Homo sapiens: one gene and its partners. The protein of the gene in region 1 interacts with the protein of each later gene in a pairwise test. Each region holds a gene or a part of one and is shown on either strand. Other genes may lie near its edges.

Evidence for each region.
Region 2: the proteins of PPP1R12C (region 1) and ATXN7 interact in a two-hybrid assay, tested with the Homo sapiens proteins (one study listed by BioGRID and IntAct).
Region 3: the proteins of PPP1R12C (region 1) and CACNA1A interact in a two-hybrid assay, tested with the Homo sapiens proteins (one study listed by BioGRID and IntAct).
Region 4: the proteins of PPP1R12C (region 1) and TSFM interact in a two-hybrid assay, tested with the Homo sapiens proteins (one large-scale study listed by BioGRID and IntAct).

The regions. Positions count from the first base shown.
Region 1 is NC_000019.10:55,097,138-55,100,637, forward strand, and holds part of PPP1R12C (protein phosphatase 1 regulatory subunit 12C), read right to left. Parts: intron 1,959-3,500; coding exon 1,814-1,958; intron 1,722-1,813; coding exon 1,647-1,721; intron 1-1,646. UniProt on the Homo sapiens protein: Regulates myosin phosphatase activity.
Region 2 is NC_000003.12:63,870,367-63,873,866, forward strand, and holds part of ATXN7 (ataxin-7), read left to right. Parts: intron 1-3,500. UniProt on the Homo sapiens protein: Acts as a component of the SAGA (aka STAGA) transcription coactivator-HAT complex. Mediates the interaction of SAGA complex with the CRX and is involved in CRX-dependent gene activation.
Region 3 is NC_000019.10:13,293,480-13,296,979, reverse strand, and holds part of CACNA1A (voltage-dependent P/Q-type calcium channel subunit alpha-1A), read left to right. Parts: intron 1-3,500.
Region 4 is NC_000012.12:57,795,437-57,798,087, reverse strand, and holds the end of TSFM (elongation factor Ts, mitochondrial isoform 2 precursor), read right to left. Parts: intron 1,912-2,651; coding exon 1,505-1,911; 3' UTR 501-1,504; downstream 1-500. Other genes in the region: AVIL (advillin), read left to right, coding at 93-206. UniProt on the Homo sapiens protein: Associates with the EF-Tu.GDP complex and induces the exchange of GDP to GTP. It remains bound to the aminoacyl-tRNA.EF-Tu.GTP complex up to the GTP hydrolysis stage on the ribosome.

The DNA.
Region 1 (3,500 bases):
CGCAGTTCACCACCGTCTTCACCCCTTCCCTGCAGTTCACCACCGTCTTCACCCCTTCTCCGCGCAGTTCACCACCGTCTTCACACCTTCCCCGCGCAGTTCACCACCGTCTTCACCCCTACCCCGCGCAGTTCGCAGTTCACCACCGTCTTCACCCCTTCCCCACGCAGTTCACCACCGTCTTCACCCCTTCCCTGCAGTTCACCACCGTCTTCGCCCCTTCCCCGCAGTTCACCGTCTTCACCCCTTCCCTGCAGTTCACCACCGTCTTCACCCCTTCCCCGCAGTTCACCACCGTCTTCGCCCCTTCTCCGCGCAGTTCACCACCGTCTTCACACCTTCCCCGCGCAGTTCACCACCGTCTTCACCCCTACCCCGCACAGTTCGCAGTTCACCACCGTCTTCGCCCCTTCCCCACGCAGTTCACCACCGTCTTCACCCCTTCCCCGCGCAGTTCACCACCGTCTTCGCCCCTTCCCCGCGCAGTTCACCACCGTCTTCACCCCTTCCCCGCAGTTCACCACCGTCTTCGCCCCTTCCCCGCGCAGTTCACCACCGTCTTCACACCTTTGTACTGGGAGGGCCCTTCATTCCTGCCCTTCTAGCAAACTCTTAGTGCTGTAGTACTCACGTCTTCCAGAAAGTGTCCCCAGATGCTCCCAGGCTGGTCTCCCCCCATATCTGGGCCCCCTGAGCTGACCCTGCCCCACCTATTAAACCCCTCATGGCCGTATCACCCTCAGGATGGAAGCCACCATGCTCCTCGCCTGGCACTCGTGGCCCTCCCGGGTCTGCCCTGCCTTACGCTCCCCTCCCTGGGCACCTCAGGGCACCCACACTTGCCCCCCAGCCTGTGTGAGATCTTCTCCTACATCCATCAGCCTCCACTTCGCTCCTGCCAACCTTTCAAAAGAGGAAGCTGTCTCCGCTCCCCTGCCCACGCACCAGAAGCCCTAGGCCTGGCCTTGGGAGCTTCCTGTCACCTCACAGAGCTCACTGAACGCTGGCATGGCTCTAGTGCTTTCCAGGGGCACGTACTCCCCCGAGCTCCTGACAGCACAATCCACGTGTCACGCATGACCCCTCATACAGTTGCGCACCATACCATTCCCATTTGACAGATAAGGAAACTGAGGCCCGGAAAGGAAAGTGGCTGGCTGAGACTCACGGCAGATCCATGGCAGAGCCGGGATTCCAACCCAGGCAGTCTGGCCAAGGCTCACGCCCTTCACTCCTTCACTCTAAGTTTTCCCAGCAAGGCTGCCCCGGGGATGGCTGGGGGACACCTTGTGGGTGACCAGCCCAGCCTGAGTCTAGGACAATCCTGCACATGGCTGCTGCCAAGGGCCACCCTGAGGTGATGAGGTGTGCTAAGCAACCTCATCAGGGTGTCAGACAACCCTGTCCAAATCCTTCTGCCGCCCCCACCACCAGGCAGGCAGGAAGCTCTGCAGCCCCATCTCTGTCCTGCCCCGGCTGGGGGTCTCTCCTGAGGCTGGGGCTGGGGCTGGGTCACCAAGAGGGAAATAGCAGGTCGCTGGGGTGGTGGGTGTCAGAAGTCGGGGGGGTTCCCCCTCTGCACCCTCCTCTGAGGAGCTGAGGGGACATGGGGAGTCTGGGGTAAGCCCCTCAGCCCTGACACTCACGTCCTCCTGTTTCCGGGCCAGTTCCTCCAACAGGCTCAGTACTTCCTCATCGGCCAGGTCACAGGGACGCTGCCCCTGGGTCAGGGGAGGAGCAGGATCAGACAATGAAGGAGGTGCTGGGCCCTCCCCACGCCCTGCCCCTCACCAGCCTGGGCACTGGCCCTCACCGCATGGGTCAGTGAGTCCATGCCCCCGCCATGCTCGGCCAGCAGGCGGCAGGCATCCTCCACGCCCCAGTGTGCCGCTGCGTGCAGGGGAGTCCAGCCGTCCCCGTCCCGGAGCTCTGGGTCGTAGCCAGCCTGAAGGAGCAACCTGGGGGCCAGGGAGGCTCAGGGTCAGAGGCCAAGGCGGGGCCCTTGGCCGAGGGCTGATTTCGGCCAGCGGTTTGGTAACGAGGTCCCAGGCCACGAGACTGAAACGTCCCTGGACAGGCTGGTAAAGAGCCACTGCCCAGCATCCGCTGCCACAAGAGGCCCCTCTGCACCAGGCCTTGTCCCTCCCCTTGGACCAGCAGTTACATGTTAAACCCTGACCCTGCAGGTGGCCTCTGGAACCTGCTCCTGGTGCTGGCAGGGGGTCACCCTGGCTGTGGGATTCCAAGGTGGCAGCAGCGGGGTGTAAGGAGGCAGCTCCGGAGGATGCAAGTGCAGGACCCTTGCCAGCCCCCATGCCTGTCAGAAGGATGGGACCCCCAAAGGGCTGTCTCAGGGCAGTAGTGCTCTAGGACCCGGGCTGGCTTAAAGCAGTGACTCCCAACCAGGGCAATGCTGTCCCCCAGGGGAGACCCGGCAGGTCTGCAGACATCTTTGTTGTCATAACTTAGGGCAAGGGTTAGCGGCATCGGCTGGGTGGAGGCCAGGGAGGCTGCTCCACACCCGGCTGCGCTCAGAGCGCTCAGCAGCAGCCCCACAAGGAGAGGGACCTGACCCAACATGCTGCCAGCGCCCAGGCTGAGAAACCCTCACCCGAGACAGTGTTCTGCGAGAAAACAATAACCACCTTAAACCATTCAATCTGAGGGCAAAGGCAGGGTTACAAGTCCAAGGCCACTCTCCAAGCTCAGCTTAACGGTAGGACGTGTCTATTTTTGGAGAACTGGAATGAGTTTCTGTGTCAATGAGAAAGAGCTTCACAAAGTGGGAACAGATGGACAGCCTGGGATATTCTACAAAGAGGCCTTATAAGCACAAGTCCCTCTCTCTGGTCCCGCCCACCTTGCCCTTCACCTTTCCCACGCTTTGCCCGGAGCTCACCCTGCCCCAGCTGTGCTGGGCCCTCGCTATTTCCCCAAGCGTCCGCTCGCCGCTGGCCTCTGCACTTGCTGCTCTCAGCCGGGCAGTGTTCTGTGCCCTGCAGCATCTCACGCTGAGCCCCTTTTTGGCAGTCACCACCCCCTCATCCCCCTGTCTCCTGACCCCAAAGCCCCTCCTCATCACACTTGTCTTCTCCCATAACCCTATTTATATCTTAAGCCAGCAGTTCTCAACTGGGGCAATGCTGCCCCCCAGGGGACATTTGGCCACGTCCAGAGACATTTTTGGTTCTCACAACCAGGGATGCTCCCAACATCCCATAGGTGGAGGCCAGGGAGGCTGCCCCACATCCTGTGATGCATGGGACGGCCCCGCAGCAAGAGCGATCAGCCCAAAATGTCTGTCTCCCCACGAGGCTATGAGCCGCACACAGGCCCAGATCTGTCTTGTTTACCCATTTCCCTGGCACCTAACAGACTGCCTGGCACACAGCAGGGGCTCAAAAATAAGCATCGAATGAGTATCATCAAATAAACATATACCTCTACTCTGCAACAAATGTTTTTTTGTTTTGTTTTGGTTTGGTTTTGTTTTGAGACGG
Region 2 (3,500 bases), on another chromosome or scaffold:
GCATTGCCAAGCAACCACCCCCAACATGTGCACACACACGTATGTGTGTGTGTGCTCACACACTGCTGTTTTATTTAGCATACTCTGCTTTTGGTATGGCAGTTTGATCTAATGCCTCATCTCTTTGGATAGGATGAAACTTCAGTCAATAAGTTTTTATTAGTCATATTGTGTGGCCGCCTTAGCACATGCATGATTCTGTCACCAATTAATTTTATTTATTGTTAAGTGTTCTCACCTTGCCCATTTTTTTATAGAGCTTGATGATTGGACCCTCTCAGATGTGATGGTTTTTGAAGGGAATCAGTGCTTTTGGAGCTGTCTTTTGCTTAATGTTCCTATTAATCCTTCTTTGCCGTGGAAGGGAAGTAATTAATACTGGCCTCTCAAGCTGCTAACTAGACATTCTTTCCTAAAGGAAATCTGTATCCTGGCCTTCCCTATTCCCTTTCTGCATGATATGTTTGGCTTTATAAAGCACACAAAAATTCCTCTTGTGTTCTAACCCCTGGAGATTAGCTCTAGGATTGGTGTGTACAGAGCATGTAGATATATATGTCTGTGTGTAATTTCATCCGGCCATCACTGAAGCTCTGAGGGCTGCTTCTTTTAGTTTCACCTTTTCACTCCCTCTACCTTTCTCTCCTGGCCATTGTGTAAGGATGCAGATTTGGTGACCTGATAACTGCTCTAACTGATTGGTTTATTTTTTGCTTCGTTTCCTGCTTTTCAACATTCTCTACTGATTTGCTTATTTTGCAGCAAGTACACTCTTTTTGGAGTTTACCTTTTCAAAACAACATTGTGCTGAAAATAAAACCACTAGAGATTATTTGGGTATTGTAGGATTTTTCCCCCTCCAAATGTACAGTAAATACAGTATAAGAGGCATGACTCAGTATTTTAGATATAGAATGCAATTTAAAAAATTGTTTGCCATTTTATATATAGATATTAGAGGTGTAAAATGTGTTCTTACTTTTAGCATTTAAGGGTTTCCTTCTTGTTAAAAAAAGTAAATTTGCTACGTATCTTTTGGATAACAGTTTGGGCAATATGAACCCAAAGTCATTACAAAAAAAGAAAAAAAGGTAAATTCACATCTAGGAATTTAAAGAAACAGTTGGTGAAGTATGCACAGATGTATGTACCAGATTGCTCACCTGTCCTTTTTTTATAACAAAACATAGAAAGTGATCTAAATACCTATGGATAGGGGATTAAGTGAATTAGGGCCTATCCATGTAGTGGAATATGCTGCAATCTTTAAAAAGAATGATGCAGTCAATATTTATTCATAGAAAAAAAGGTATATAATGAGACTATGTATAAGATGGAACTTTTAGAATAGGGTTTTAGTCATCTTTGAAGTATATGGAAGAAAATGCCAGGAGCAAGAATTGTTACAGGGGAGAATCTGTTTTAATTATTAAATTATAATCTAAAACTATAATTTTGATTATTAAACATTATTATAATCTGGTTTGTTTTTAAATTTAAAAAAAAAACAGATTATAATTTAATGCTTTAATTATCAATTAAATTGTTCCTTTTTTTTCCTTAGCCAGTTACCTTCAAATTCAACTCACCTTTATTTGCACCTGCATCTTTGTGGTTTAACTATGATAATTTTAGCAAATTTTCACTTCAGTTATTTTGGCTTTGGAGTATGTTCTATCTCCTATGCCCCACATTCTGGTGGAGATACAGTTCATTGTTTATATGAAATTAGCAACATTGATCTAGCCTTGACGAATGAGAAACGTAACCACATCTGGCTGTGACATAGTGACTCTTTGTGGACTTTGGGCCTTAGAGTTTGTTATAGGAAACTTTAGGACGTGAATACACTATAAAATATAGAAATATTACGATAATTCATGAAGCATGTCTGTCAGTTATCTATTGTTAACAACCCATTCCAAAAGTTTGTGGCTTAAAACACATACCATTTTATTTGCTCATAATTAGGGCAGAGCAGTTCTCCATTGGTAGTGCCTGGCCTGAGGTCACTAATGTGGCTGCAGTCCTCTTAAGTCTTGAGTCAGAACTAGTTAGTCAAGCTGGGCTATCTCTCTGAGCTCCACATAATCTCATCTTCTAGCAGCCTAGATCAAATTTCCTCAGGTGGAGGCACTTTGTTCCAGGAGGGTGAGAACTGCAAGGTTTCTGGAGGCTTAAGCTTAAGAGTCACACAGTACCACTCTGCCATATTCTGCTAGTCAAAGCAAGTCACAAGGCCAACTCAAATTTTAGGAGTTGGACAAAGATACCCCCTCTTGATGGCAAATGCTGCCAAGTCATATTGCACAGGATAGCCTACAGGGAATTGTTGCAGCCATCAACATATGTGCCAACCTGCTTTTGTTATAGTAACTAAACTCTGTTTGTTTGCCATGATTGATAAAACTCTGTTCTGAGGAACAGTGCTAAATGGTTTCCTGTGTTACCTCTTGGGATAACAGCTCTACATGTAGGTAGTATTATCCCATTTTAAAGGTATGAAAAGTGAGCCTTAGAAAGGTTAAGTAACCTGCCCTAGAGCTTTTATCTAGTTAGGGACAGATCTTAAAAGTTAAGGAAAATTTATGTCTATACCAGTGTTTCTTAATCCCATCACTAAAGAACTTGCATGGGGGAGGGAGAGAGGAAGGGTGGGAAGTGGGAGGAAGCGTAGTTTTTAAAATCTCAAAATCCATTATCTTAAAATTTTACATGAATTTTGTATTCTACTCTATAATATATCCCTTTTCAATGTGAAATTCATGGTTTAATTACTTGCCAATCAAATTAAATTTTATCCCCCCAATTTTTAAGAAAATGCAATTCTTCTAGACACAGTATAACAGCTAATCAGCCAGAGATCTTTGGTTGTAAGCAGTAAGAACTAAATCTGACTACTTTAAACATAAAGAGATTACTGGAGGGATGTGGTGACAACAATGCCAAAGAATCAGGCTTCAGAGTGAACCAGATCTAGAGCAGCTTCAGGGATCCAGGTAGCAGGACTCAGTAGACAGTCTTCTCAGGATACAGGAGGGCCAACCTCTCCAGCAGTTTTTAATCCCACTTTCTACTGAGAGTATATCTTTCAGGCCCATACTGGGTCCCAGCAGGTGCCTTGGTTATTGCCTCACTCAGCCAGTACCCTTTAGGGGAGTTGTCATTCCCCAGAAGTGGGAATTGATGGAGGGCAGGTAAAACCAACAGATATTTACTATCTGAACATTTGTGGGCCACTATGAGTGGACTTGGTTTAGACATTGTATCACATATAAGCGACACCATAATGATCCCTGGTTCACCCGTCTCCTTCCCAACCCTACATCTAAGGGTTTTGTTTTGTTTTGTGTTTGAAACAAGCTGTCCTTCTGTCACCTAGGCTGGAGCGCAGTGGCACAATCGTGGCTTACTGCAGCGTTGACCTCCTGGCCTCAAGCAGTCCTCCCACTGCAGCTTCTCAAGAAGCCGGGGATACAGGTGTGTGCCACCAAACCTGG
Region 3 (3,500 bases), about 42 Mb from region 1:
GGAGACCAGTCTGGGCAATAGAGGCAGACCCCATCTCTATAAAATATAAAAAATTAAACAGATGTGGTGGCATGCACCTGCAGTCCCAACTACTTGGGAGGCTGAGGCAGGAGGGTCACTGGAGCCCAGGATGTCTAGGCTATGATGAGCTATGATTGCACCACTGCACTTCAGCCTGGGCGACAGAGCAAGGCTTTGTCTCAAAAAATAAAATAAAAAATAAAGAAAAAGAAAAGGCACTTTGGGCCGTTAGAATTGAAGGGAGAGCAGAGTTTCAAAGCTTTGGATGCAGCGGGATGTGGTGGCTCATGCCTGTAGTCCCAGCACTTTGGGAGGCCAAGGTGGGAGGATCCACTTGAGCCCCGGAGTTCAAGACCAGCCTGCGCAACATAGTGAGACCTCACCTTTTAAAAATAAATAAAAATGTTAGAAAGCTTTTGAGGCATCTTCCAGGCCAGCAACTTATCCATTCAGAACCAGCATCCTCTTTTTCATAACGACATTTTGTAATACTTTCTAGCAGATGCTATAGTGATTCTGCATATAGGGACTCAACAACTTACCCATTAAAATAGACATCGTAGACATTGTCCTATTACAAATTAACCTGCTCTTAGTCCTCTTTTATATTACCATCAGGGCATAATATTGATTTTTTTAATGATGGGTTTAAGTGATCCTGTTGTATGACATATGAGGTAGGCCAGCACTTCTCAAAATCTAATGTGTATGTGAATCCCCAGGGATCTTGTTAAAACACAAATTGTAATTCCGTAGGGCTAAGGACTCAGTGGAGCCTGAGATTCTGCATTTGCAACGAGCTCCCAGATGAGGCTGATACTACTGGTCCAGGGACCACATTTTGAGTAATGAGACTCTGGAGGACATAGTGAAGTAATTCTGATATGTACACCATACACAAAATCACCATGAAGTGACAGGCACAAATGATGGCTAACTCTGGGTTGTGTGGACAATTCAAACCACATGAGGGGAGTTGCCAGCAGTGTCAAGATGTTCCACAATGTTGAACACCTCTTGGCAAAGTTCCATATACAAAAGAGTCTAGTCTTTCTTCCATTTATTTAATAGTTGCATTGCAGGAAAATGCAATGTATATTAAAAACATACAAAAAATATGTTGTGTTCTTATGTAAAAGAGTTAGGTTTAAACTAAAAGCACAGGATCAGGTGCAGTGGCTCCCACCTGTAATCCCAGTGCATTGGGAGGCTGAGGAAGGAGAATCGCTTGAGGCCAGGAGTTCGAGACCAACCTGGGCGACATAAGGAGACCTCGATCTCTACAAAAGAAGTTTTTTAATTAGCCAGGTGTGGCGGCAGGTGCCTGTAGTTCTAGCTACTTGGAAGGCTGAAGCAGGAGGATTGCTTGAGCCCAGGAGTTCAAGATTACAGTGAGCTATGATTATGCCATTGCATTCCAACCTGGGCAACAGAACAAGTCCTTGTCTCAAAAAAAAAAAAAAGAAAGAAAGAAAGAAAAAACCCAAACAAACAAGCAAACTAAAAGCACAGGTAATTACAAGCAAGATTTTTCACCTCTTTGAGGGACATTAGAAAGTCATGAAGAGGAAAAGATAAGTCTTTCCCATATGGGACTGTCATGTACATGGTAGGGTATTTAGTATAACTGCCTACCATTCTCTAAGTGCCTGCAGTGCCCCTCAATCATTATGTTATTAGGTTTCCACGTAGTTCTACAACAGTTTTCTGAAAACCATTGTTCTAGGTCATTCTTTCGCTTCAATCTTCTCCTATGGGTTTATGCATTCATTCAGTTAGTATTTACTAAGTGCCTACTATATTCTAAGCTCATGCTGTGAGTTCAGTCACACAACTGCAAGTGAAGTGGTCTGAGACATTCTGAGAAATACGACCAAGAAACTGCTCCCAGGGTCTCAGGGCAGGTTTCCAGAGGAGCAATCTGAGAAGGGAGTAGAGTGTTTCAGTCTAACAACAGCATGTGCAAAGGCCCTGGGGTGGACCAGAAGGAGGCCAGTTTGCAGGACATGACTAGTGACGAGAAAGTGACAAAGAAATTGAAGGTGCATTGATGAGACTCTGGGGCTGTCAGTCACTCAGGGGAATGAGAGATCAAAACGGGAGTTTAGGTGGAATAAAGTGTTTACCACAGCACTCTCTGTATAGTAAAGACCAATGAAGAGCCAGGTACAGGCCAGTGTGATGGTTCACGCCTGTAATCCCAGCACTTTGGGAGGCAGAGACAGGTGGATCACCTGAGGTCAGGGGTTCAGAACCAGCTTGGCCAACATGGCAAAACCCTGTCTCTACTAAAAATACAAAAAATTAGCCAGGCGTGGTGGTGGACGCCTATAATCCCAGCTACTCAGGAGGCTGAGGCACAAGAATTGTCCTGCGAGGCAGAGGTTACAGTGAGCTGAGATCACACCACTGCACTCCAGCCTGGGCAACAGAACAAGACTCTGTCTCAAAAAAAAAAAAAAAAAAAAAAAGCCAGGTACAGTGGTATGCACCTGTAATCCCAGCTACTCAGGAGGCTGAGGCAAAGGATTGCTTGAGCCCAGGAGTTCGAGACCAGCCTGAGCATTTAGAGAATGGGAGGCCAGTATACTAAATACCCTACCATGTACAAGACAGTCTCATATGGAAAAGAATTATCCTTTCCTCTTCATGACTTTCTAGTGCTCCTCACACAGGTGAAAAATCTTGCTTATAATTATCTGTGCCTTTAGTTTGTTGGTTTATTTAGGGTTTTGTTTGTTTTTTTTTTTTTTTTGAGGCAGGGTCTTGCTCTGTTGCCCAGGTTGGATTGCAGTAGCATTGCTCATTTTAGAGATGAGCAAGACCTCATGTCTAAAAAAAAAAGAAAGACCAATGATTATTAATTACTCTTGCTATTATTACTAATATTACTGTTATTATCAGCCTTATTAACAGATCTACTGTTATTGAAGGAGGCAGAGTGACAGGGACAAAATGTCTCTCCCTAACAATATGCCAGGAAGAGTTTTTGAAAGACAACAGTAAACATTGGAAACTACAAGAGCAGCAAAGCCTGGTTGTGAAAGGCAAGGACTTTGGGGCAGGCAGTCACATTCCTGCCCTATCACTTCCAGGCTGTGTGACTTTCAGAATTTCACTCCTCTCTGGGCCTCCATTTCCTCATCTATAAAATGAAGATAAGAATAGTAGCTACCTCCTTCTCTGGGTATAAGATTTAACTGAGCCGGGCGCGGTGGCTCATGCCTGTAATCCCAGCACTTTGGGAGGCCGAGGTGAGCGGATCACAAGGTCATGAGTTCAAGACCATCCTGGCTAATATGGTGAAACCCCATCTCTACTAAAAATACCAAAAAAAAAAAAAATTAGCCGGGCGTAGGTGGTGCACGCCTGTAGTCCCAGCTACTCGGGAGGCTGAGGTAGGAGAATGGTGTAAAACCCGGGAGGCGGAGCTTGCAGTGAGCCGAGATCGCACCACTGCACTCCAGCCGGGGAGACAG
Region 4 (2,651 bases), on another chromosome or scaffold:
CCTAGAACTCCCTCTTGCTCCAACTTCCTCAACTTCTGTTGGCAATGATGTCATGTCTTCCTTCTAACTAGAAACTTTGTTTTCTCTCTTAGAATTACCTCTCTGAACAGGACTTTGTGTCTGTGTTTGGCATCACAAGAGGGCAATTTGCAGCTCTGCCTGGCTGGAAACAGCTCCAAATGAAGAAAGAAAAGGGGCTTTTCTAAAGCAAGAAGGCCTATACCTATTGCAAGGCCACAGAAAAGAGCAGATAGTGCCAATATCAGGAAATAATTTATCCACCAATTTCTGCCTGACATTCAGCTACTTAATTTAGATATAATAGAGTCTGCAAATCACGGCATGTTCTCCATTTTTTCTCATCCTTGCATTCCTTGCTTGTTATATACCTAAAATGTTAACCATATAGTTTTTGGGTTTTGTGGCCCTCTAGCTAAAGCCTCAGCAGAAAGCACTAAAACTGCATAAATCTGGAGAAATCAAAAGAAAGAGAACCAAAAAACAATGCTTAAAATGTTTAATAACTTTATGTTTAATATTATACCAGGACCTACCTTTGTTTTCAATTTTAAGATGATTATTTCTAAAATCTATTTAGCCTGTAAATCATTGAAATCATATATGCACTCCATAGGCAAAATCCAAATACCCAGATCTGTAATGTGTCAAAGCATTTTTCACTTTTCAAATAAAGATACCTATAATGAACAAATGGAGTTATTTTCAGTATTCTGGGTCTGCTTGTTACGGTAATTTTATGTTATACTTGAAGAAATGTTTCAGTACTGGGGAAGTAAAGAGGCAATGTTAAGTGAGCTCTCTGGGTAACTGGACTACTCTAATTTCTGTTTCTGGCACAAGAATGTCAAAATCTGCCTTACAGCTGGCCAGGAAACCTCAGTACCCACCCACCCACACATCATCCAAAAGAGAAATAGGGGCATGTGTTATTAATTTCATTAAATGAGGCCAGAACCAGTGTGTCTACCACTGCAGAGCACCTTCAAAGCATACTACAGACAATCACAAAGAAGAGAACCCACATTTTCCAGACAACTCTAGGTTTGAATCAATAATCCTAAAGAAATCCATGTGGCACAAGTAATATAACTAGGGAGGTTCCGAGGCAGAAGCACGGTTCACAGTGTCGCAAAGCAAAAACAGAACAAAAGAGTTCTATGTCATAAAAGGTGTAAGACAGAACATATAAGTTAGAAATTTCAGAAATACCATAATAAATCTATGTTGAAGGGAGCAGCAGTATTGTTGATGCCTGTTCTCCACGACACTATCACGTCAATAAGGCCCACCTGTTGTTTTTGAAAGGCACAGAAAAGCTAAATCCAGTATTACGCAAACAAGGAAAAAATTATTTTTATTATACAACTATTTAATAATTTTACCCATGCATTCTCGGTCTGAAGAGGTTTGGGAAATATTCCTTTTTGTAATGATGTCCAGAGCTAAAAGTAAATATTCCTCCTGGGCCAAAAGTCTCTGGAACCTATTCAGTTTCTGCTGCCTCTTCACCTTCTCCACATTCAAACCGCACAAAGTCTACTACCGACACCCCCTGAGGCTGCACATACTGCCCCAAGGTAATGGAGGGATCCAGCAAATACGGCTGGGACAGCATCTTAGTCTCTGCCTCTCCCCCAGGCTCATCGTCCAGGGAGCCAACAGAGAGGGGGGCCATGCCCACCACATGCTGCCCAAGGCGGCGGCCAACGTCTTCAAGGTTTGTTTTCTGTTCAGACGTCTCACAGATGACCAGGGCCCCATACTTCCCCAGCACCAGCTTGTGAAGTGAGGGACTCTGCATTGCTCCGTGGACATAAGAGCCAACGTAGAACCCAGATGGCACCTTCACCCATGCAGCTCGTTTAAGAATCATGTTTTCTCCCAGTTTTCCTATTAAAGCAAAAACAAAAAACCAACACACCAACAAATTGTGATGTCTGTGATGGTACCAAAATATGCACAGAAGAGGCCCAGTTTGGAAGACAGTCCCTTTGCATTTACATAGGATATGCAGTAAGATGAAGAGATACCATTTTCAGTTTTTGTAGAAAGAGGAAAAGGGGTATGGGGCAGGAGAGCGGGAGTGGGGGAAGTGAAGAATACCTTTATGAAGCACCAACTATGTGCCAGGCACTCTGGTACTTAAAAACAGGCCGGGTGTAGTGGCTCACGTCTGTAATCCCAGCACTTTGGGAGGCTGAAGCGGGTAGATCACCTGAGGTCAGGAATTCAAGACCAGCCTGGCCAACATGGATGAAACCCTGTTTCTACTAAAAATACAAAAATCAGCTGGGCGTGGTGGTGTGCACCTGTAATCCCAACTAATCAGGAGGCTGAGGCAGGAGAATCACTTGAACCCAGGAAGCGGAGGTTGCAGTGAGCCGAGATCGTACCATTGCAGTCCATCCTGGGAACAAGACTCTCTCCAAAAACAAAAAAAACAAAAAAAACAACAAACATAGGTTGTATAGGTTGTGGTGACACAAGTATGTGTGACTCAGGTCTCAGTTCTGCCTATTTACTGACTATATGACCTCGGGCAAGTGACTCAATGACATAATCTCATTTACTAAATTTATCAAGCCTTTGTTTCCTCACCTTTAAAATAGAGATGACACCACCTACCTTTC